7 linked regions of the Homo sapiens genome follow. The protein of the gene in region 6 purifies or fractionates together with the protein of the main gene of each other region. This does not show direct contact. Each region holds a gene or a part of one and is shown on either strand. Other genes may lie near its edges.

Region 1 (3,500 bases), on a different chromosome or scaffold from region 6:
TCTGGTTTTATTTTAATGAAGAAAACATCAATAATTTGAATATTGATACGTCAGGCAGAAATAAGCACCTAACAATTCCTTCATCAAGCCTATCATAGTTTTATGTCCATTTTATATTTTGTTGACACTCAATGTGATTGGATCTGTACCTGCTTTTAGCACTACTTCAACTGGAGCCAAAGATCTTACAATCAGTAGTAGCTCCCAACCTTTTCTATGTATCAAAATCATGCGGGCAACTTTTAAAACAACACTACATTCCAGTTCAACTGGTCTGCTATGGGAACAGGGGTGTATTGTTTCATAAAGCATCCTATGTCATCACAAGGTGTAGTCAAGGTGTCTAAGGGCAAAGATGGCCTATGGAGTGCTAAACTAAACGTCCCCAAACAGAATGTGTGTTGGTATTAAGGATTTACTGGACATATGGAATGGTATGTAGGTTAGTTTTCCTTTAAATTTTCAACCTTAAAGAGATACATAAATATCTATAGATGAAAAAAACAGATTTGCTTCAAAATAACTTAGGGGATTAGATGAGGGGAAGAAGAAATACTGGCCACATACTGACAAATTATTTATACACAGTAACAGATACGCTAGCATCCATTATTGAAGGCTCAACTTTTTTTTTTTTTTTTTTTAAGACAGTTTCACTCTTGCCCAAGCTGGAGTGCAATAACACAAACTTGGCTCACTGCAACTTCCGCTTCCCGGGTTCAAGCGATTCTCCTGCCTCAGCCTTCTGAGTAGCTGGGATTATAGGCGCCCACCACCACACATGGCTAATTCTTGCATTTTTAGCAGAGACAGGGTTTCGCCATGTTGGCCAGGCTGGTCTCGAACTCTTGACCTCAGGTGATCCACCCACCTCGGACTTCCAAAGTGCTGTGATTACAGGCATGAGCCACCGTGCCTGGCCAAGTCATTCAAATTTAATGTCACCAAAAATCGGTATGAAATTGGGAAATTAAATCAACCAAGTAAACAGGTGTGATGAGTCCACATAAGCGCCTGACTCCGATTCAGGTCACACCATCCACTTGTCGTCTCTTTTGTATCTTTTATAATGCCTGCCTCATTTTTAATCAAAGGGGTGGCCACATAAACAGGCTTTCTGATTCTGTGGCTTACTAGTGAGTAAACTTACAGCTGCCCTCCCCCAAGTCTAAATAGTAAACTGATTATTATCAAGTCCAAATTCAAACAAAGCCACCTTGATAGGACTTACCTGAAAGATATTTGAAATGGCATCCAGGATAACCAGAATAATCTTGGTATCTTTTGCAGTTAAGAGGTTCATCAACGGTTCTATTATGCCACAGTGAACAAGGTACACAATCTGTTCAACTGTTCCACCACTGGTATAGTTGGTCACGGCCCACACAGCTTCCTTTTGTGTCTTAAAATCTGCCTATTAAACATAAGGAAATGGTTTTATTTCAGAACAGTTGCACAAATAAGATTCCAAGAGTACTTTTTCACAAAAACAATGACTGAAAGTACCAAGGTTCTATCCAACCTTAAGTAAAAGGGGTTACTGGGTATTGTTCAGCAAAGGACTCCTAGTAGAACCCAAGATTCTTGCACGTGAAGAAGCTTATCAAGCACAGCTTTCTATAAATACTAAAAATGACTTGATTAAATCCTAAGACTTCGTTACCTTAGAGAGAACACTGACAAGGAATGGGACTAATCCATGATTCACAACTTGCTGTATCTGGTCCTGGCGGCCGGCTGTGATGTTTGACATTGTCCACGTAGCTTCCTTCTGAATGTTAGTTTTGGGGTTGGTGAGCAGGCTGGGAAAGACGGCGAGTGCTCCTGCATCAATCACAACCTGAGTCTGTTCATCTGTACCAGTGACAATATTCCCTATGGCTCTTAGGGCAGGAGTCTGAAAAAAAAAAAATATGTTGATGCTGGTTATTTTTTCCCCAGCACTTTAGAAATTCTATACCCTAAAAGTTTTAACAAGAGGCCCATCATGGCCTGAAATAGGCAATATTTCAATATTACTATCAACTGATTATGCTTTTTTTTTTTTTTTTGAGAGACTGGAGTATAATGGCACGATTTCGGGTCACTGCAGCCTCTGCCTCCCAGATTCAAGCAATTCTCCTGCCTTAGCCTCCCGAGTAGTTGAGATTACAGACACGTGCCACCATGTCCAGATAATTTCTTTGTATTTTTAGTAGAGATGGGCTTTCACAATGTTGGCCAGGCTGGTCTCGAACTCCTGACCTCAGGTGATCCACCTGCCTTGGTCTCCCAAAGTGCTGGGATTACACAGGTGTGAGCCACCACTACCACGCCCAGCCCTGATCATGCTTCTTATACTTATGTCCTAATCTACAAGTAAATAACTTACCACAATTGGCAATTCAGAAGCTCCTAGAAGCTTCACAAGTTGGGGCACAACTCCTGTTTTCACCACCATGCCAATTCGTTCATTTGGACCATCAGTAAGGTAGGAAATAGCCCAGCAGGTATCTGCTAATACTTCTGGATCATCATGATGCAGGAGCCGAACTAAGGTAGGAAGAATCTGCTCAACAGCATCTATCGGGGGTGCAGGATTCTTGTTGCGGCAAAGATTAGAAAGTGTCCAGGTAAGATTACGTAAGTAGCCACACTGGGGGAAAAAAAATAGGCAATGAGAGGTTCTGTCTTTTGAGAAGATGGGGGAAATTAGAATGAAGAAGTGAGTAACTTTACTCATGTTAGTAACTTACTGCTAAAGATGACATATCAGGAACTGCAAGGAGAGCCAACAGTGGGTCAACTGCACCGTACTTAATAACCAAGTCTCGGAACACTGAGCCATCACCTGAAAAAAAAGGCAAGATTAATTTTTTTTTTTTTTTTTTTGAGACGGAGTTTCTCTCTGTCGCCCAGGCTGGAGTGCAGTGGCGCGATCTCGGCTCACTGCAAGCTCCGCCTCCTGGGTTCAAGCCATTCTCCTGCCTCAGCCTCAGGCGCCCGCCGCCACGCCCGGCTAATTTTTTGTATTTTTAGTAGAGGTGGGGTTTCACTGTGTTAGCCAGGATGGTCTCAATCTCCTGACCTCATGATCCACCCGCCTCTGCCTCCCAAAGTGCTGGGATTACAGGCGTGAGCCACCATGCCCGGCCGAGGCAAGATTAATTTTATTACCTTGTCCAACACCATCAATTTTCAGTGACTGAATGCACCAGCAAAAACTCCCAAACTTACTTAGATGGCCCTCTGCTGCCTTTGTAAAGACGACACTTTCATTCCTAATAAGGGCTTGAAAGCAAGCTCAAAACTTGACAAAGTCACTATTACTTATAACAAGGCCTTTCTTCCAACTAATTACGATTAGATACATTCAGTCAAAAGAACTTCAAGTCCAAGTACCTGCAATGTTTCCTAGAGCCCAGACAGCTTGTTCACTGATGTGAGCATGGGGAGATGCCAACAGAGAAATGAATGCTGGGATGGCACCTCCATCTACCACAGCCTTGGTTTGTTCTGAT
Region 2 (3,500 bases), on a different chromosome or scaffold from region 6:
GATCATGCAGTATATGGTAGAATGGCAACTTGAGGCCAGTTCTTAGGTGTGTTTGTTGTCCTTATTCAGAATGGAACAATGTGGTTTATTGTACAAAAATTTAAAAATGAATGTCGAAAAGTAGAAATTATTACCCAAATCTCACCCTCTGTGGTTGTTTGCTATGTGATCTTCCAGACTCACATATACATGTAGATAATTTTTTTTTTTTTTTTTTGAGACGGAGTCTTGCTCTGTCGCCCTGGCTGGAGTGCAGTGGCGCAATCTCGGCTCACTGCAGGCTCTGCCTCCTGGGTTCACGCCATTCTCCTGCCTCAGCCTCCCAAGTAGCTGGGACTACAGGCGCCCACCATCACCTCCAGCTAATTTTTTGTATTTTTAGTAGAGACGGGGTTTCACCATGTTAGCCAGGATGGTCTCGATCTCCTGACCTCATGATCCGCCTGCCTGGGCCTCCCAAAGTGCTGGGATTACAGGAGTGAGCCACTGTGGCCGTCCTCACATGTAGATACTTTTTTAACTTTTTGCTTTTAACCACTTAAGATATTGTGAACTCATTTCCAAATTAACATATATTTGCTTTTAACAGCTACATTTCCACTGGAGTTACGTACCATTTGTAATCTATTCCTGGAAATTTAGATGGTTACAACTGTTTTTTATTTTATTTATTTATTTATTTAGAGACGGAGTCTGACTCTGTCACCCAGGCTGGAGCGCAGTGGTGTGATCTTGGCTCACTGCAACTTCCACCTCCGGGGTTCAAGTGATTCTCCTGCCTCACCCTTCCGAGTAGCTGGGACTACGGGCGCACACCACCACGCCTGGCTAATTTTTGTATTTTTAGTAGAGACGGGGTTTCACCATGTTGGCCAGGATGGTATTGATCTCTTGACTTCATGATCTGCCGGCCTTAGCCTCCCAAAGTGCTGGGATTACAGGTGTGAGCCACCACGCCTGGCCTCAACTGTTTTTTATTATAAATAATGCTGTAGGCCGGGCGCGGTGGCTCACTTATGTAATCCCAGCACTTTGGGAGACTGAGGCGGGTGGATCCCGAGATCAGGAGATCGAGACCATTCTGGCTAACAAGGTGAAACCCCGTCTCTACTAAAAATACAAAAAATTAGCCGGGTGTGGTGGTGGGTGCCTGTAGTCCCAGCTACTTGGGAGGCTGAGGCAGGAGAATGGCGTGAACCTGGGAGGCGAAGCTTGCAGTGAGCAGAGATCGCACCACTGCCCTCCAGGCTGGGCGACAGAGCGAGACTCCGTCTCAAAAAATAATAATAAATAAATAAATAAATAAAGCTGTGTACAGCCTGGCCAACACTTTGGGAGGCCGAGGCAGGCAGATCACAAGGTCAGGAGTTCGAGACCAGCCTGACCAACATGGTGAAACCCCATCTCTACTAAAAATACAAAAGTTAGCCGGGCATGGTGGCACATGCCTGTAATCTCAGCTATTCAGCAGGCGGAGGCAGGAGAATCGCTTGAACCCACGAGGCGGAGGTTGCAGTGAGCCAAGATCGCGCCACTGCACTCCAGCTTGGGTGACAGGGCGAGACTCTGTCTCAAAAAAAAAAAGAAGAAAAAATCCTTTATTCTGGTTTTCCCGTAGCTTCCACAGATCCAAAAGGGTCAGGTTTATTTCCAGTAGCCAAATATTCTGCCATCTGGACTGAGATATCTCCTAGGTTGAGGTTATTATAGAGGTAGTAACCTGATTCTTTCTTCCTTTTCTCCTTCCCCTTTCCTCCTTTGCCTCCCTCCTCTTTTCTTCCTCTGTATTTATTTTATCATTCCTTCTTCCTTTCTTATTTCTAGGCCATATAGGCCAGCCAGGGAAAGGTTAGTAAGGGGTGACATTGATCCCTATGACCTGAGGAATATTCTTCGACCTTGAGACATGCCGATTATGCTCTTCTTTTCCTAGGATGCTCACAACTGTATTCCTGAGCTGGACAGTGAGACAGCCATGTTTTCTGTCTACGATGGACATGGAGGTAACTTTAACAGATCATATTGGTAACATTCTAGGACCCCAATTCCAGACGTTCCAGGGCAAGAACAGGTCCCTTTGTTCATTTACTTTCCAGGGTCTGGCCCTCATTATCATTTCCTGCGTGGTGCTGTTTTTCTGTATTCTGTCATTCTTTTTTCCCAGTAGGTACTGTATTGGTTTATAATCTCACCAGGACTTGTTTTAATCCAAAGAGCCTCTATCTTTTTTTATTTTTATTTTTTAAAATTTTTAGGCTGGGCACGCGGTAGGTCACACCTGTAATCCCGGCACAGTGGATCACGAGGTCAGGAGTTCGAGACCAGCCTGACCAATATGGTGAAACCCCATCTCTACTAAAAATACAAAAATTAGCTGGGCGTAGTGGTGGGCGCCTGTGGTCCCAGCTGCTCGGAAGGCTGAGGCAGGAGAATCGCTTGAACCTGGGAGGTGGAGGTTGCAGTGAGCCAAGACCATGCCACTGCACTCCAGCCTGGGCAACAGAGCAAGACTCTTGTCTTAAAAAACAAAAAAGTGTACCCAGTTGAGCTGATTCTTTATCTTTTTTTCACTGGAGAACTAAGTATACAGGTGAGAAAAGACGAGATATTTATACCCGAGAGAATTGATGGTGAAATCCATTTTTTTGGATCAGAACTTCCCCAAACAGTGTCCTTCAAATAGGGTTCAGGGGTGCTAAGATATTTATCCCCTCAACCCTTGGGGTTCACTCCAGTATGGCATATAAATATTGTATCACTTTCTATGTGTGGGGAGCAGTGCTCCAGGTGACCTTCCTTCCTTTCCTTCTAGGGGAGGAAGTTGCCTTGTACTGTGCCAAATATCTTCCTGATATCATCAAAGATCAGAAGGCCTACAAGGAAGGCAAGCTACAGAAGGTCTGTCTGCTTACACCGCCCATTCCTCACTTGTGTAGGCTTTTCCCTTGTTCTCTAGCCCTTGGGCTTTTCCTTTCTTTTTGTCCTCTAGCTGCTGCTGCTTATTTACTCTTGAAGAATTCTGTTCCTAAAACGAGCTTATTGGCCGCCTTTTAGACTTGCCTTATTATTCCTAGGCCTCTGAGCTGTTTTTATCTGTGAGTGTCTCTTAGTGTGGTGGCTCACACTCTTAATTTGTATTCCATCCTTGTGCTCAGGATTGTATATAGGGAGTTCATTTTGTACTAGTCTTAGACTATTTTGCTTATATTCAGGCTTTAGAAGATGCCTTCTTGGCTATTGACGCCAAATTGACCACTGAAGAAGTCATTAAAGAGCTGGCACAGATTGCAGGGCGACCCACTGAGGATGAAGATGAAAAAGAAAAAGTAGCTGATGAAGATGATGGTGAGTGTGGCATCCCTTGTTTGAGGGGAAATCAGCATTTTAAGAAATATTCTTTAATATTACTTATCAATTCTAAGATAGGATGGCTTTCTAGGGACCTGGGGAGTCCTTATGTTAAAGAAACCTATGATGTTCTCCTGCATTGTATGTGGTTA
Region 3 (3,500 bases), on a different chromosome or scaffold from region 6:
GGCTCACGCCTGTAATCCCAGCACTTTAGGAGGCCAAGGCAGGTGGATCACTTGTGGTCAGGAGGAGCTCGAGACCAGCCTGGTCAACATGGTGAAACCCCGCCTCTACTAAAATACAAAAATTGGCCGGGCATGGTGGCATGCACTTGTAATCCCAGTTACTCAGAGGGCTGAGGCAGAACTACTTGAACCCCAGAGGCGGAGGTTGCAGTGAGCTGAGATGGCGCCACTGCACTCCAGCCTAGGCGAAAGGGCGAGACTCCATCTCAAAAAAAAAAAAAAGCTGGAACCAGTACACTGGATGGCCAACATTAGCACTGAATCTTAATTCTTGACACCAAACCTCTTTCAGGACAAATATTCCATCAAAAACCTTATGAAAAAACATGGGTCAGATTGTCAATTTCACCAGTAAGGATACACACTGAAGCTGATGTGAATTTGCATGTTATAGCAAATGCTGCAGGAAACACTGATGGTTTCAACCATTTTATTGACTGGTGAGTAGCTACACTGCCATCTTCTTGTAACCCTTTTTTTTTTTTTTGAGACAGAGTCCTGCTCTACTGCCCAGGCTGGAGTGCAGTGGCATGATTTTGGCTCACTACAACCTCCACCTTCCAGGTTCAAGCAATTCTCTTGCCTCAGCCTCCCAAGTAGCTGGGACTACAGGTGCCCACCACCACGCCCGGCTAATTTTTGTATCTTTTTAAGTAGAGACAGGGTTTCAAACATTCTTTACAGAGAGAAATTTCGTTATCACACATTTGGGCCAGGTTTCTGTCATGTCAGCACTTGAGGAGGCTGAGACTGAAGGATCACTTGAGGCCAGGAGTTCGAGACCAGTCGGGGTAACATAGTGACAACCAATCTCTGAGCCATGATTGTGCCTCTGCACTCCAGCCTAGGCAACAGAGACTCTGTAACAAAACAAAATCAGGCCGGGCGCGGTGGCTCACGCCTGTAATCCCAGCACTTTGGGAGGCTGAGGCGGGTGGATCACAAGGTCAGGAGTTCAAGATGGTGAAACCTCGTCTCTACTAAAAATACAAAAAAATTACCCGGGCATGGTGGCGGGTGCCTGTAATCCCAGCTACTCAGGAAGCTGAGATGGAGAATTGCTTGAACCCGGGAGGCGGAGGCTGCAGTGAGCAGAGATGGTGCCACTGCACTCCAGCCTGGGCAACACAGCGAGACTCCATCTCAAACAAACCAAACCAAACCAAACCAAACCAAACCAAACCAAACCAAACTCACAAATGTGTCCTTAGAATGATGGTCCCACAATGTATAGCAGGAATATAATTCTGATATATTTTGTACTCATATGGCACTTTAATTATTTCCAGCTCTGTGCAGGCTTTCAAACATATAACACTGTATTTTGTGTATGCCTGGGCCTGCACAAATCTACCTGTTTCCCAACTTTAACTCCTGCCCAACCTTACCCCAAAAGGTTAATGGGGCCCAAACCTTTAGGTCTTGCCAGCTGCACCGACTTGACAAATTCTCCACAATAAGTCTGTACTCTGTGCGAGTAGGAGGGCCATATTTATCTCGGCCACTTCTTCTATAACCATATCCACCTTTGGAAGGTTCAAATAAATAAGATTATTTCAGTGGAAGAAAAGGAAAAAAAATGACACAGCACACACCCCCCCTTAAATATATTATTTACCCCCACCCCAAACAATAGCACGTTTTAACTCTATTCCCACCCTTAATTCTAAAATAGATTTTTAAAGAAGCAATCAGCTAAATATAAACATTTAATTTAAAAAGTTGTAAGTATACATATTCATTAATATTTGCATTTAAGATTAACATGCATAAATTTAAAACTATTAACAATTTAACAATTTAGAAATAAGTAACCAAATTACTAAATCAGTTACTGGTGTTACTCACAGTGATTAAACATTTTGTGAATATTTTATATGGAAAAAAAAAGATTTTCAGGCACCTATTTCAGTTTAATCTCATCTGTGTCTAACCCTTGGGATCCTCACCACCCAGGTCTAATGGGGAAAGGTTGCGGTCGTCACATGGCTTCCTGTTTTTGGTCAGCCAAGGGCCACAATGGTTCAAAGAGCCACGCATGGAAAGGTAACCCAAGGTCAGCAAATGGAACAGGCAGTCATCTTAGCCTCAAAGGATTCTTTTAATTAAAACATTGAGGTCTTTGTTAAATCTATGTTAAACAATTGCATTACAGAGAAAAAAACAACAACAACACAAACACACATCATTAAACATATTTATAAAGTATTATAAACAAGAAATTGTCATTAGTTTAATTAAAATTAAACATTATCAAAGGCTTATTTGTAATTCTACATTTTTAAAAAAGATACATAATTTACAAAATAGCTTAAACATCAATACGTTTAAATGTAATATCAATTAATTACTTTAAAAATTAGCATGATAACAAAAGCACGTTACTGATAAAAGTATGCCCTTTGAATGCTTACTGCGTCCAGAACCGTAACTGCCATCTCGCCGTGGGCCGCGGGCATGCTCAACAATTACTCGCTCACCACAAAGGTCTTTGCCATTCAGTTCATAAACAGCATCATCTGCATCACGCAGATCATCAAACTCCACAAAACCATATCTAGAAGAGAGCAAAGAAAATACTGGTTGGTACCATTTTGACATCCAGCTTCACTAACATTAAAGAGAAAGCAATGAGGTTCATGCTTAGCAAAGGTTAGGTGGATTTTGCAAACTAAGGATCAACTTTGTCTTCTCTTCAGGTGAAACCACTTTGCTTTGTGCCAACAGGCACTGAAAGAGGTAGGGAGACTTCTCAAAGTAGACTCCTATCTTTCTAGGAGGAGGCTGGCTACATACACAGGACACTTCTTTTGTTTCCCAAGTAGTTGGTGGCAACTGCAAAGACAGGGATGCTTGGTATAAGAATCCAAAATATATAATGCTACAAGACATATAACGCTCTTTCAAACACCACATAAAACTCATCTTTTTTAGCTTTAAAAGTGGTATCTTAGAGAACAATTAGACCTACATTCAGGCACTGTGTAATAACTGTTGAATCATGTGAAAGTAAAAAACTTTTTTTTAAGGTTCCTGTTCCTCTACGTAAACACATCTGTCACATGTGATTATCAGTGAAAAAAAGACTGGAGCTGTTTACTTCCCTGTGAGATTCCAAATTCATTTCCATGAAGTTTTAGAATAGGATGGAATTCTCTGAAATCTGTATACAACTCGTGCAAACTTCTTTAAATGGTATTGCTACATCTTTTCCAGCCAAGAGGTTTGGTGGCTTAACATATAACCAAAAGAACCCCCACCATCCTACTAATGCCTATTAAAGAGTACAATTTATATAGCTAAAGTGCAAAATTTGTAAGATACTTATAAGCAAGGTTATACAAATGCCCTGTAAATTATGTTTTCAAGAAATATTTAGTTTGGTCTGACACAGCTGTGAAAAGTCCAGCTTTGTGACCATTGCCTATATTTAAAAACCA
Region 4 (3,500 bases), on a different chromosome or scaffold from region 6:
TGGCCAGCTGGTGACTGTCGGGGGCCGCTCCTTTGGGGGATTTGGAGGCCGGGCTCTGGAACTCCTTCTGCTCCCGTGGGCGGACACGCAGGCGATGTCCTCCCAGGCTGTGCTGGGACTGTGACAAGACAGCCTCTCGAGCACCCACGTCCCCCATCTCCACAATGGCAAACACTCCCTGGTAAACAACAGGGGCAGAGATGATGATTTTGGAACCAAGAATCTAAGCACGAGATCTACAGTGGATGAGAATATTTGAAATGGAGACTATCCCATAAATTGAGAATATTTGCTTGCTGTTTTCATAATAACAGGGGACATATCTAGAAAAGCAATTTTCAGCCAGGTGCAGTGACTCATGCCTGTAATCCCAGCACTTTGGGAGGCTGAGGCAGGAGAACTGCTTGAGCCCAGGAGTTGGAGACCAACCAGGGCAACATAGTGAGATCCCATCTCTACAAACAATTTTTTTTTTTTGAGATGGAGTCTTACTCTGTCACCCAGGCTGGAGTGCAGCGGGGTGATCTCGGCTTACTGCAACCTCTGCCTCCCAGGTTCCAGCGATTCTCCTGCCTCAGTCTCCCTAGTAGCTGGGATTACAGGCACATGCCACCATGCCCAGCTAATTTTTGTATTTTCAGTAAAAATGGGGTTTCACCATGTTGGCCAGGCTGGTCTCTAATTCCTAAACTCCTAAACTCGGCCTCCTAAAGTGCTGGGATTACAGGTGTGAGCCACTGCACCTGGCCAGTACAATTTTTTTAAATTAGCCAGGTAATCCCAGCTACTGGAGAGGAAGAGATGGGAGGATTGCTTGAGCCCGGGGGCTGAGATTGCAATGAGCCGAGATCGCACCACTGCACTCCAGTCTGGGTGACACAACCACACCCTGTCTCAAAAAAAAAAAGAAAAGAAAAAGAAAATTAGCCAGGCATGGCAGCACACACCTGTAGTTCCAATTACTTGGGAGGCTATGATAAGAGCATCACTTGGGCCCAGGATGTTGAGGCTGCAGTGAGCTGTGATTGTGATTGCACCACTACACACCAGCCTGAGAGACAGCGAGACCCTGTCTCAAAAAAAAGTAGAAAAACAATTCTTTCCCTCACTCCTATTCCAAACATTTTACTCTCACCCCAGTCTGCCTCTAAAAACCTCATTTTATCTACATTATTTGTCCCCTACTCTTCCCAATGATGTGATTACACTATGACCCACCCTATAACTTTTCCTGATATAATTAGAATTTTTTTAAACATTTATTAAGGATCCATGTAACAGAATGAGTCCACTTTAAAAATCTTTTAAAAAATCAATTCATGCAGCTGGGTGCAGTGGCTCACGCCTGTAATCCCAGCACTTTAGGAGGCCGAGGTGGGTGGATCACGAGGTCAGGAGATAGAGACCATCCTGGCTAACATGGTGAAACCCCGTCTCTACTAAAAATACAAAAAATTAGCCAGGCGTGGTGGTGGGCGCCTGTAGTCCCAGCTACTAGGGAGGCTAAGGCAGGAGAATGGCATGAACCCAGGAGGCGGAGCTTGCAGTGAGCTGAGATGGCGCCACTGCACTCCAGCCTGGGCGACAGTGGGAGACTCTGTCTCCAAAAAAAAAAAAAAAAAAAAATCAATTCATGTAATAAACACTGTGCGAGGCATAAATACAAACTCATAAACCCTGTCTTCAAGAACTCACTATCTAGGAATAACAGCAATATAACAACTATATTGTTGTAAGTTGGTGAGTTCAATGATATTCACTGGCCATATTTTTTTAAAGGTAAAATATTAGCAAGAAGAGGAAAAACGCCGGGCGCAGTAGCTCACGCCTAATCTCAACACTTTGGGAGGCCTAGGCGGGTGGATCACTTGAGGTCAGGAGTTCAAAACCAGCCTGACCAACATGGCAAAACCCCATCTCCACTAAAAATACAAAATTAGCCAGATATGGTGGTGCATGCCTGTAATCCCAGCTACTCAGGAGGCAATTGCTTGAACCCGGGAGGCGGAGGTTACTGTGAGCCGAGATTGTGCATTGTACTCCAGTCTGTCCAGTCTGGACAACAAGAGCGAATCTCCGTCTCAAAAAGAAAAAAAAAGAAGAGGAAAAACAGGACTGCTTTAGGCAAAAAAGTCCATATTCTTTTATATCCTCCAATGGTAAAGCTGGACCCTCATCTTGTTTATAAAAAGGTTCCTGCTAGAGTAAGGTAGCACCAAGACAGAGTGGTGCTAGCATAAAGATAGACATTCAGATGAAGGGAATGGAATTGAGACCCTGAAAGAAATTCACACATCTTTGGTCAACTGATTTTGAACAACGGTGTCAAGAAGATTCAATGGGGAAAGAACAGTCTTGTCAACAAATTGTGCTGGGACAACTGGATAGCCACATGCAAAACAATGATGTTGAACCTTTACCTCACACCATACATAACAATTAACTCAACCAGGAGGATGGCTTCACCAGTACACAGGCCTAAATCACAAATGGGAAGTAACCAAGAAAGGATAAGGCGTTTCTTTTTGGAGTGGTGAAAACATTCTGGAATCAGTCATGAGGGTTGAAGAACCCTGTGAATATACTAACACTCACTGAATTGTATTTTTTTTTTTTTTTTTTTGAGACAGAGTGTCTCTGTCACTCAGACTTGAGTACAGTGGCACACTCTCGGCTCATTATTACCTCTGCCTCCCGGGGTTCAAGCAATTATCCTACCTCAGCCTCCCTAGTAGCTGGAATCAAAGACACGCACCACTACACCTGGCTAATTTTTGTATTTTTAATAGAGATGTGGTTTCACCACATTAGCCAGGCTGGTCTCAAACTCCTGATCTCAAGTGATCCTCCCACCTCGGCCTCCCAGAGGGCTGGGATTACAGGTATCAGCCACCACACCCACCCCTAAATTGTATACTTTTTTTTTTTTTTTTTTTGAGATGGAGTTTCGTTCTGTCACCCAGGCTGGAGTGCAGTGGCACGATCTTGGCTCACAGCAACCTCTGCCTCCCAGGTTCAAGTGATTCTCCTGCTTTCTGCCTCCCGAGTAGCTAGGATTATAGGTGCCCACCACCACACCCAGGTAATTTTTTGTATTTTTAGTAGAGATGGGGTTTCACCATGTTGGCCAGGCTGGTCTCCAACTCCTAACCTTAGGTGATCCACCTGCCTCGGCCTCCCAAAGTGCTGGGATTACAGGCCATGAGCCACCATGCCCAGCCAATTGTATACTTTTTGTTTGTTTATTTTTTTACCCAATAGTAAATAACCAACCAATGAATTGTATACTATTTATTTTATTTTACTTTTTTTTTTTGAGAAGGAGTCTCGCTCTGTTGCCCAGGCTGGAGTGCAGTGGCACGATCTCGGCTCACTCCAACCTCCGCCTCTCGGGTTCAAGCAATTCTCCTGCCTCAGTCTCCTGAATAGCTGGGATTACAGGAATCTGCCACTACGCCCAGCTAATTTTTTTGTATTTTTAGTAGAGACGGTTTCACCAT
Region 5 (3,500 bases), on a different chromosome or scaffold from region 6:
ATAGGTAAAACTTCACATAGCGTCTTCCACATATCACAAAATGCTTTCCTTATTTAATAATAAGCACATAAAATAATCCAAATATCTGTGAGCCTCTATTTGGTCCCAATGTTTTAGGTCATAGCTTTCACTACTTCCCTCCTCTCTATCCTCAAATTATTTGCATCAGTAAAAAAAGTTAATTAAGGTGTAACAGTCTCCTTTGCTCCACAATGCCACTACAAAGCCTATTTTCCATAAAGAACCAGAGGCCAAGCAAACGTAGGCTACTAAGTACTTGAATTGAAAATACAACTAAAATTTCCTGAGTCATTTAACATCAAATTTTGGCTTTGTAATCTATTTGTATTCAATTCTCAGTCATTACTGAAGGTCATTTGACATCAACCATAGAGAGCAGTGAGATTTAAAGTTGCATGGAAGTACCGCTGAAAACTTCTAACAACAGAAAGATGAGTTTGGAGTGTTTAATTTTACTACATAGTGACATATATTCAGAAAGTTGTCATACAAGGAATGATGAGGAGTTACAAATCCAACTTGGAAACCCTTAATGCTCACTATCAATTTGTTGAAAGTCAATTTTTTTTTTTTTTTTGAGACGGAGTCTCTGTCGCCCAGGCTGGAGTGTAGCAGCGCTATCTCGGCTCACTGCAAGCTCCGCCTCCCGGGTTCAAGCCATTCTCCTGCCTCAGCCTCCCTAGTAGCTGGGACTACAGGCGCCCGCCACCACGCCTGGCTAATTTTTGTATTTTTAGTAGACGGGACTTCACCGCGTTAGCCAGGATGGTCTCGATCTCCTGACCTCGTGATCCGCCCGCCTCAGCCTCCCAAAGTGCTGGGATTACAGGCATGAGCCACCACACCCGGCCACAAGCTGTTTCTTAACTAAGCTTCTGAAGCAGGAACTCCTAAAGTGTCAATAGGCAGTTTTACTTACAGTAGTAGTTATATACTAATGCTGCTTGCAGAATTTTTTTTCCCTTTAGAGTTCACAGAAGTACTACCACATGGAGACAAAACAAAACAGTAAAAATAGTATAGGTAGTAAAAAGGCCAAAACTAAGAAATTTGGGGCCATAACATTAGAAAAGTTTGAAAATATACTTTACATATTTGCTTAAAAAATTAAGTGTAGTACTGCCTTAATGCTTGGTTCCTCTACCATTAAATGGCATTTCATTCAGTTTATGCTGAACTCTTAGATCAACTTATTATTACTGAATACAAAGCTAAGCAAACCTAGACATTTTAGCTGCTGCCACTGTGTATTATCACAGTACATAAGGAATCTGTCACAAGGTTTGTCTCCCCTTCTCCATTATACTGTTCTTAAAGGTAGAGGGCAGGTCTCATGCACCTTTGCATCCCCTGCATATAAGCACAGTGGCTGGCATACAGTGGGTGAATAGGTATTTACTGATGCATTGCTGAGTAGTGGCTTATAACATGGAGAAAAGCCCAACATTGTCCTGTTCTATCAGCATTACTTAGGTATCCTCACTCCTAATAGGCAGAAAGCAGTTTTGAAGTAAAGTTAAATTCCTCACTTGCTAAACACAGCAGACCTGTCAAGTGTTGGACAAGACTTAAACCACTTTCTTTAAATGTGTTCATAAAGCATTTTGAGAAATCAAGAGATGAAAGGCGCTATGTAAGTACAAAATATTCAAGACAGTTTAGCAAAAGTGCTACTTTTCTACGATGATGGAATGGTTGTGCTAGTTTGAGGGGAACATCCCCTGAGGCTACTCTTCTTGCTGTCATTATTAACACAACAATGGAATTTTGACAAAGATGCCATCACTTTATATAGTTTTTATTCAGCTAACTACTTTCTATAAACCATGTGACAGAAAATGAAATTAAGCCACTTATTCCACATAAACCAATACTTTATCAAAGTTCCGCATTTTACAAGTCATGTTCAAAAAACACACACAAATTAGCATTTTGTACACAAATGTTTATTTCTCAATTAAACATTCCCTTTAAACACAAGGAATGAGTTCTAAATCTTCATAAAGATGAATTAAAAATGAAATCCCTCCAGTATAGTGTATATAATCACTGTGTTCTTGGTCACTACTGGCATTTACTGTTTAACATCAAAAACAAAGACAGGTTATTTAAAAATCATGCTACTGGATTTCTAGCTCTTCCTCTATGACCAGTTCTACACTGATCTGCAATGTTTAAAAGTTTACATCACCAAATCAAAGCAAGTTTAAGGTGTGAAGTAGCTGTGCATTAAACACAAAATAAACAATAAAATTATAAGATATAGTCAAGTTCATAACGAATATAGGTGTTCTTATCATCGTTGTAGATTCTTGGGTAATGTGCTATGAGAGCGTCCTGGGAACCAATGTAGATGGAGTTGTAAATTTTCCAATATACATCTCTGACTTTCCGGGCTGGGTGAAACAGACCCTAAAATAATTGAACGGTTACATTATTTCAATTTTTAAGAACATACATAACCTTAACAAAATTAAGAAAACATAAAGATATGATTCAAAATTATTTCCCTTGGGGAGTTGGGGGGGGGGGAACCTACTAATTACACTGCTCTTAAGCTGCAATGGAAGAGACAAAACTCACTCCCCTGTCACCACACAATTGTTCTACCATATGGCACAATATACCCTAATGATAATCAGGAAAAGTAACTTAATTCAATACACTACTTTTCTTGCTAAGTAATCTTTTAAAAATCTTTAACTTACAGGCAGTGGGGGGAAAGGGGAGGGAGAGCATTAGGACAAATACCTAATGCATGCAGGGCTTAAAACCTAGATGACAGGTTGATAGGTGCAGCAAACCACCATGGCACATATATACCTATGTAACAAACCTGCACGTTCAGCACAAGTATCCCAGAACTTAAAGTATTATTTAAAAAAAAAAAATCACCGATTAAAAAAAAAATCTTTAACTTACCTGTAAACAATATTGCAACATTCTACATGGTCCAATAGCAACTCTCAGGCCCTCTAGGGCTCCCATAACTGCCTGAATTACATGAGGAGATGTCTCAAATACATTGGGCCATACATAGTTCAACAAGTGATTCAGCGAATCTTCACAACCAAATCCATAAACCCCAAGTGACATGTGCTGTACCACTGCACTAGCCGTCTGTCTGTGTACAAGGTCTCTACAACGGAAGGGAAAAAAGTCCTTTAAGATGCGGTCTTATAAGAAAGGGGGAAAAATCCTTAAAGATACAGTCTTAGTTTTACAGGAAATATTCACCGGCCCATTAGAAACTAAATTACTAATTCAGTGCACTGAATAGATGTGAAGTCATCTAACATTTCATATATCTAATATATCCTTTAGAATAGCTTCCACTTGAGGACTTTTGCTTTAATTACTCAAGATTCACTATGGCTCAACAATTAAGCCATATTTTCTAATTAACTTTTTTTTTTTTTTTGAGACGGAGTCTTACTCTGTCACCCAGACTGGAGTGCAGTGGTGTGATCTTGGCTCAC
Region 6 (3,944 bases):
TTTGATAAGAGATTAAGATGACAGTCCTGTATGGACCCAGTTAAGTTCAATTCTGGGAAGGCTTTAAATGCTTCACTCCCATGATTTTCCTGAATAAAATAACAGAGCTCAGTTCTGCCTAAGGTTGATTCCTCTATTTTTTCCTTCTTGTGCTAATAGCACCTAATACATTTTATTTTGTCTAACCAAAACAAAACATTTAACTTGATTTATGAAGAAACTCAATTCTTTTAAAAATTTAACATTTTAATTAGAACCAATCCCTATGGTCTATTGTTCAATGGAAGCTCAGATAGGCAAAGTGGAATGAATAGAATGAACTATTAAACATGTCTGTATAAATCAACATGAAAAGGTATTGAAGGTATTGCAAGTTACAAACTAAGTACAGTGAGAGTTTAGTGTTAAACATTTCTCTAAACTTTATATATATTCATGTAGTATTTTTGCAATTATGTTTTGTTTTTACAGTATAAAAACAAAATCAACACATTTCCAAATAATGTTCAAAACACATTTATTTACTAAATCACCTGACACTGACATCTAAGATAATTTCAACAAATAAAATGTTTAAGAAAAATTGTGGTATACATCATATTTGTCTCTAGAAAAAAGTCTTATTTACAAGTTGAGGAACAAAGATATTTCTTTTAATTAAAAACACATTAATTATGCAGTGCTACCATAATAAAAGTGAATCTCCCAAGAACAGCTCAAGTATCTTGTGAAGTATTAAGAGGTGAACTGTTTTTTTTTTCAATCATATTCAGAAAATCTTATATGTTTACTCGCTTGTTGAGTCTTTGCCAGTCTAATCTTTTCAGCTTTGGTGATTAACTAAAGAGAAATAAATCAAAAATTAAAATGTATTGGATACTCAAAACACACACACACACACACACACACACACACAAAACTATGACTAGAAAAAATTTCACAGCTATCAGCTTAAATGGAAATTTTTTAAAAACAGCGAGAAGATGACAAATGAGATAATTATGCTCAGGTCAAATCAATTACAAATCAAATCTGTTATTAAGGCTATTTACTATTTCCTATTTCTTACACCCTTACATAAATTGTTGAATATTTTTAAGGAAGGCAAATGAAATTACACAGAATAAAAAAGAAAACTGTTTAAAATGTCTAAAATATTCCAAAAGCTTCCTTGAGAAAAAAAAGTTAAAATATTAAACTTTGGAGTAAATGCAAATCTTTTTCTCTAAAAAATATAGATTCTAATGAGTATTCATTTAAATAGTTTTAAAGTGTTTGGTACCATATGGCAATTGGAAGGAATTCACTTTTAGATTAAACTAAAAGCCTATTATTCATCATTGAGGTGAATTAAAATCCAAAGATGTTTAGAACTCTATCATACCCATGCTGCTGTTCACAAATTTTATAAATTCTGCCTTTACCTGCTGAGTATCAGTAATTTTTACAGAAAAGAATTCAAATGTTTTAAAAGCCAAAGAGAAATAAGCTTCATTCTGTCTCTAGTAGCTGTTATCTATTTTTACCAATGTGTTCAAAATCATAGGGCATACTACAAAGATTTAGGCTAGCAAAATGAATAGGAGACATCCCTTTTGGCAGACCTTTCCTTCATCTTCTTGATCTTTTGTGATACATCACTAATTTAATTTACTTGTGTTTAATATATTATTTTAGTTTCGTTTTTTTGAGACAGAGTCTTGCTCTGTTGCCCAGGCTGTGGTGCAGTGGCGCCATCTTGGCTCACTGCAACCTCCACTTCCTAGGTTCAGGCAATTCTCTTGCCTCAGCCTCCCCAGTAGCTGGGATTACATGTGCGTGCCAGCTGGCTAATTTTTGTATTTTTAGTAGACAGGGTTTCAATATGTTGGCCGGGCTGGTCTCCAACTCCTGACCTCAAGTGATCCACCAGCCTCAGCCTCCTAAAGTGCTGGGATTATAGGCATGAGCCACCGTGCCTGGCCCCATAATGTGAATATTAAGAGCCAGAATTTTTTTACTTTTACTCAATTATGGGCCAAATACAACACTATTGTAGAAATATTGGGCTGTCAGGTCAGTAAGGTATTTATGTAACCTTTTGGCAGATTCACTGATGTTCTACTAGTTTTTTTTCTAAGCAATTTCCATTACTTACTAAGATGCTCCTAGTACTCCAACTACACTGGTCTTCTAGTCCCTGACAGTCTTCCCTTCCGGTCTCTGCATTTTCTTTGCTTCTGCCTGAAAAGCTATACTTCTAAACTTTACTGGGGCTTACTCGCTCACTTCCTTATGGGTCTTGGCTGTAACATAACCTTTGCAGAGAGTTTTCCAGACAACCTCAGCTGTTACAATGCTCTCCTGCAATACACTTTATTTTTCTGTCTAGCACTGGTCATCACCTAAACTATATTGTTTATCTGTTAGCTTCATGAAAGTAGGGGACTTTGTGATTCATGGCTTTACCCCAGGTTCCAAGAATGGTGCCTAACACAAGGCACTCAAAAATCATTAGCTGAATTAACTAGCAAACAAGTTGGCTAAACTAATTATGGTCTACTCCTTTTTTCCAACAAGCTTTGCACAGCACTTACTTTCTGTGTTAACCTCCGTTTCATTTCACGACAAGAGTCAACTGGCTACTTCCATAGCTACTTAACAAATTGCGTTAACGACAATCCTGACGTCATAACTGAGTTGTGTTCCAACTCAATTTAAGAACTTCCTAGTCAAAGATGAGCTCTAAATTTTTAAAATGAAAAATAAAAGGTTTATTCCTAGTTTTAAAAATATATAAAATCTAAATGAAATTTCACACCAATTAGAAGGGTATTATTTAACAAAGTGACTTCACTTCAGTTACCAGTTCTGGATTAGTGATTTTAACATTTGAATAATCTCAAACTGGCTTTGAAATTAACACCTCATATCCCTGAAAGAATCCTTGGGAAGCACAGGAGGCTTCCCCACCACAGCAAGTTCAGTCTCCTTTCAAGGAAACAAAATTCACACCTCCCCACAAATCACGATAAATTCTGGGCAATGGTAGAAGAAGGTTGATGAAAAACACTTGCTTTTTAAGTTAGTTTTTTTTTTTTTTTGTATAAATATGACCCCAAATCAACAAGCTTAGATTACAGGAAATAGGACTTTTAACTTGCTCACCTAACAAAAAAGGAAGTTCATCTTTTTCATTTTTCTTACACTTTTATAATATGCATTTCTAAATTTTGATGACTGTAGTTAATATTAGGTATTATGTACCCTACTTTGTTCCAGGCACTTTTAAAATGTACTAACCTTTACATGTATAATAATTTGTTTTAAAACTTTAAGAGACAGGGTCTTGCTATGTTGCCTAAGCTGGAAAGCAGTGGCTATTCCCAGGTGTGATTCCACTACTGATCAGACCAGTATCATTTTAAGTGACAGAAAAATAAAATTACTGAAAGAGGGGCTTGCTTTAAATTATTTAAGCTTGTTTGTATTACCTACTATCTTAGAGAAAGAGGAATAAAGCTTATCGTTGCTATAGGAAACACTATGCATAAAGTCTCTCCATCTTATCTATGGAGCCTCCTATCTTTATAAACTACATTCTGAATACATTGTGTTTTTACCATGAAGATAATCTTTCTATAATCATTTATCACCAAACTACAAGACATAGCAGCCAGATATCAAGACTGTTAAAGTATATCACTGGTTAAAAAGAAAAAATCTAAATTAAAATTATGTATCCTTGTGAGAAAAATAATTCAATTTCATACATTTTGAAATCTAGAGAAATGACTTTTCCCTCCCAACCTAAAACATAGTATATACTCAGTAAATTTTTGTTAGGTAATAGCAAAACTACGATCATTTTATGACTACCTAGTACTGACTTTGGCATTAAACGTTCAAGGAAAGTTTAGTCTAAAAAAACAAAAATGAATCAATTACCTTTTCAGTGCCTCTTT
Region 7 (3,500 bases), on a different chromosome or scaffold from region 6:
GATGGTCAGACTCAATTTTGCACTTGACCGCTGCACTCTCCTGCCTCTTTAAATCCAAAGCTATAGTTTTGCAGACTTGGCCCCTCTGTTTTGGGTGGCTATTTGACAGATACAGATAGAGAAGATACCTCCCTAGAACACTGCCACCCCATCTTAGACTCTTCCAAACCCCGCACCTTAATGGAAATCACAAAGTGTCCTCCATTACGCAGGAAGGTGTGGGCATTCAGGGCCACAATCCGGGTCTGGTCTGGCTGGGCCACATCAGCAAAGATCACATCCACCATTGCTAAGGAGAAAGGAGCAGCAGTTAAAAGTTGGAGTCACAGGGATCACCCCAGATCCTCCCATGGGGCCTATGCCCATCACCAGCAGGTTCCTGGGAGATTCTCCCTGCCTCCAGTTTCACTCCCCACCTCCACTGGTCCCCCTCCCTCCAGTGTCCCAAGATGAGTCCAAAACCCACAGTCACATCATTCATCCACTCTTCTTGTAAACCATGGTTGCCACCTACTCTGTGGCCAGCCCTGGGCCGGGCGTGGGGGACATAGAGACGAGTCAGACCCGGACCCTGCCCTCGAGACGCTCCCAGGTCTGGTGGGGAGACAGACACGTCATCAAAAAGACAAGTAAGAGTGAGTGAGCACTTATAGGCAAGAGTGTCCGCAGGACTGTGAAATGAAAACAAGTTGCAGAACAAAGGGGATGGTATGAGTGCATGGGAAAAATAAAACACAGAAAGAAAAAGGAGCAGAATGAAAAATAATGTTTTTAAGCCAGTGTGACTTTTCAAAAAATGAAAAGGTGGTATAATGAAAACTGATTATTTAAAACCTGGGAAAAGCAGACATCAAATTGTTCTCATCAGTTACTTCTGGCGGTGGTTTATAAGGCTTTTCAACTTTTATATTATATCTTTGAATGTTTTTTTAAACAAAGTAATTAATATTCACAGTGGGCCCCTCCAGATCAAGCCATGCTTAGTTTTCTGGGATATGCTCTCACCAGACAATGATTAGGACCCCCAAAAGGAGGCTTTTTATGGAGGGGTAGTGTAATAAATACAAGAGGCAGGAAGTACAGGAGACCTAGGAGATGGGGAGGAGACTGAAGGAGAAGAGGTTGGCCCTCCAAGGGTGGCTTCCAAGACTCTGAAGCCAAGCTGCCACCTCCACAACCTCACCTAGCTCCCCTTACCCCTTTCTATTCCTGCAGACTCAAGAGGTCTGCTCATCCACTCCAACTCCATCCGAATCAGAGATCCACTGGCTTCTTCCAGAAGCCTGCGGTGGCCTGTCCTACCCCACCGGGGCCACCCCCAGACCCCTCACCGATGAGCATGCGGTATTTGTGTGGGTGTCGAGCATCCTCGATCACAGGAATGATGTTGGTCCTCTTCTTGGCCAAGTTAATGAGGTCACGGCCAGAGCGGTGGGAGAACTCGACTGCATAGACTAGACCATCCTAAAATAAATTAAAAATTAATGAACAGTGATGCTAGTTCTCATGCATGGAGTGCCTACTTTAGGCCCATACACTATACACAGCATCTCTTCCAACCCCCAAATCAAAACCCTACCATCTAATGACTATTGCTATCATGTCCATTTTTCACATGAATAAACTGAGGTCCAGACATAAAGTCACTGGCCAAGAGTTATTCAGCAAGTAGCAAAAGTACCCAATCCCATCTGCCTGAGAGCCCAGGTTCCCAACAGAGGCTTAAAACCAGGAAGCCAAGGCACAGAGATGATGTAACAATGGGCCAACCACTGCTCTAAGCACCTTTCAGAAATTAACTCATTTAATCTTCACAAGTCTATGTTCCAGACAGGTAAACTGAGGCTTGGATGGGTTAGGTAACTTGCCTGATTAAAGCCTGAGGTTTTTTTTTTTTTTTTTTTTGAGTCTCACTCTGTTGCCCAGGATGGAGTGCAGTTGTGCGATCTCAGCTTAGTGCAACGTCCGCCTCCTGGGTTCAAGCAATTCTCCTGTCTCAGCCTCCCAAGTAGGTGGGACTACAGGCACACGTCACCACACCCAGCTAATTTTTGTATTTTTAGTAGAGATGGGGTTTTACCATATTGGTCAGGCTGGTCTCGAACTCCTGACCTCAGGTGATCCACCTGCCTCGGCCTCCGAAAGTGTTGAGATTAAAGGCATGAGCCACCTCGTCTGGCCAAAGCCTGAGGTTTTAAGGCACTACACTTAACAGCTTATAAACACATAAAGTAACAAAGGGTAACAGAGTGGGACACGTGGGTGCCAGGGGCCCTCTAAATGGGAAGCCTATACAGGCTCAGAAACCATGAAGATCTCCTGGTTCTTTCTAAAGAAACCAGAAGAGCAGGTTTTAGCAGCATAAAATTTTAAAGAGGCCCATCAAATCAAATAGTCTGGTATCTATACTCCCCGTTGTCTCTCTAAGGTTGGTCACCCCACACCCACGTCTCTTCCCTTGAGGCCAAGAACCCAGGAGTGAGGTTGAATGACATTATCTGGTTCAAGCCACTCCTTTTACTCACAGGCACAGTGACAGAAAAGGGCCTGGCCCTAAGTCACACAGCGCAGGCAAGCAGTCAAACCCTGATATTCCAGGTTGGCAGAAGGGAGGCAGCCTTTACCTCCTGCCTGACTCTCCATCTACTCACTCACCGGACCAACGATGTCAGAGACATGGGAGACCGTGGTGCCCGAGGCAGCCCCGAGGTAGAGAACCTTAGCCCCCGGTTTGATGTGGATCTGGTCCACACCACCCAGGATTGCTGCTGCTAGCTTGGAGCGGAAGGGGTTCCAGGCTCGGTACTCAATTTTGTCATCTCCTTCCTAGATGAGAGATGGGGACAGAAGTCAGTGCTAGGCTCTTCTGCAGGACCTCACTGCCTTTAACCCTAGGAGCCTTGAAAGGAACTGGGCTGTCCTATCACTGCACAAGAACTCAACATGAGTAAAGAGCAGTGACCATGCACATGCAGTCGCTGCCCTCTCATGGAGGTGACTGACCCAAAGGGCAGCAAAAGAGAATAAACACAAACAGTAACAGTAAAACCAGCACTTGTTCAACAAACATGCACTGTGCCAGCACCTACTGTGTGCCAGACCCTGCTCTAGGCGCTGGGGATACAAAACAAGGATCCCTGCCCAGAAGGTGTAAGTATTCACCGAACTAACTAAATACAACATGGCATATGAGATGGTGACAGGTGTTAAGGAGAGAAGACAAAGCCAGGAGAGAAGATACGGAGTTTGGGAAGCAGGGCAAGGAGCAGGTGAAAATGGGAAAAGGGGCCAGGGAGGGGCTGAAAGGCAGATTCCAAATCAGACCTGAAGGAGGCAAGGGGCCATTCAAGTTATCTGAGGAAGGACATTCCCACGAGAGGGAGAGCGATTAGGAAGGCCCCAAGGCAGGCACACCCTGGCCTCAAAGAAAATGACACAGGATAACAGGACAGGGGAGGGCGGTGAGGGATGCCTTGACCCGCAGAGTGGTGTGACGCAGC

What was found.
Region 1: the proteins of LARP7 (region 6) and KPNA2 purify together in Homo sapiens (affinity purification with mass spectrometry; 3 studies listed by BioGRID and IntAct, with this or other methods). This does not show direct contact.
Region 2: the proteins of LARP7 (region 6) and PPM1G purify together in Homo sapiens (affinity purification with mass spectrometry; 3 studies listed by BioGRID and IntAct, with this or other methods). This does not show direct contact.
Region 3: the proteins of LARP7 (region 6) and SRSF4 purify together in Homo sapiens (affinity purification with mass spectrometry; 3 studies listed by BioGRID and IntAct, with this or other methods). This does not show direct contact.
Region 4: the proteins of LARP7 (region 6) and TUT1 purify together in Homo sapiens (affinity purification with mass spectrometry; 4 studies listed by BioGRID and IntAct, with this or other methods). This does not show direct contact.
Region 5: the proteins of LARP7 (region 6) and SF3B1 purify together in Homo sapiens (affinity purification with mass spectrometry; 4 studies listed by BioGRID and IntAct, with this or other methods). This does not show direct contact.
Region 7: the proteins of LARP7 (region 6) and FBL purify together in Homo sapiens (affinity purification with mass spectrometry; 4 studies listed by BioGRID and IntAct, with this or other methods). This does not show direct contact.

The regions. Positions count from the first base shown.
Region 1 is NC_000017.11:68,042,235-68,045,734, reverse strand, and holds part of KPNA2 (importin subunit alpha-1), read right to left. Parts: coding exon 3,382-3,500; intron 2,831-3,381; coding exon 2,736-2,830; intron 2,636-2,735; coding exon 2,372-2,635; intron 1,898-2,371; coding exon 1,664-1,897; intron 1,415-1,663; coding exon 1,232-1,414; intron 1-1,231.
Region 2 is NC_000002.12:27,385,592-27,389,091, reverse strand, and holds part of PPM1G (protein phosphatase 1G), read left to right. Parts: intron 1-1,933; coding exon 1,934-2,003; intron 2,004-2,812; coding exon 2,813-2,898; intron 2,899-3,212; coding exon 3,213-3,345; intron 3,346-3,500.
Region 3 is NC_000001.11:29,157,901-29,161,400, forward strand, and holds part of SRSF4 (serine/arginine-rich splicing factor 4), read right to left. Parts: intron 2,896-3,500; exon of another isoform or gene 2,662-2,895; coding exon of another isoform or gene 2,618-2,661; coding exon 2,475-2,617; intron 2,111-2,474; exon of another isoform or gene 1,964-2,110; intron 1,587-1,963; coding exon 1,474-1,586; intron 1-1,473. UniProt on the Homo sapiens protein: Plays a role in alternative splice site selection during pre-mRNA splicing. Represses the splicing of MAPT/Tau exon 10.
Region 4 is NC_000011.10:62,581,524-62,585,023, forward strand, and holds part of TUT1 (speckle targeted PIP5K1A-regulated poly(A) polymerase), read right to left. Parts: intron 179-3,500; coding exon 1-178. UniProt on the Homo sapiens protein: Poly(A) polymerase that creates the 3'-poly(A) tail of specific pre-mRNAs. Localizes to nuclear speckles together with PIP5K1A and mediates polyadenylation of a select set of mRNAs, such as HMOX1.
Region 5 is NC_000002.12:197,390,029-197,393,528, forward strand, and holds part of SF3B1 (splicing factor 3B subunit 1), read right to left. Parts: intron 3,161-3,500; coding exon 2,944-3,160; intron 2,434-2,943; coding exon 2,275-2,433; 3' UTR 1-2,274. UniProt on the Homo sapiens protein: Component of the 17S U2 SnRNP complex of the spliceosome, a large ribonucleoprotein complex that removes introns from transcribed pre-mRNAs.
Region 6 is NC_000004.12:112,654,143-112,658,086, reverse strand, and holds the end of LARP7 (la-related protein 7), read right to left. Parts: coding exon 3,928-3,944; intron 841-3,927; coding exon 760-840; 3' UTR 501-759; downstream 1-500. UniProt on the Homo sapiens protein: RNA-binding protein that specifically binds distinct small nuclear RNA (snRNAs) and regulates their processing and function.
Region 7 is NC_000019.10:39,836,380-39,839,879, forward strand, and holds part of FBL (rRNA 2'-O-methyltransferase fibrillarin), read right to left. Parts: intron 2,827-3,500; coding exon 2,656-2,826; intron 1,465-2,655; coding exon 1,332-1,464; intron 290-1,331; coding exon 177-289; intron 1-176.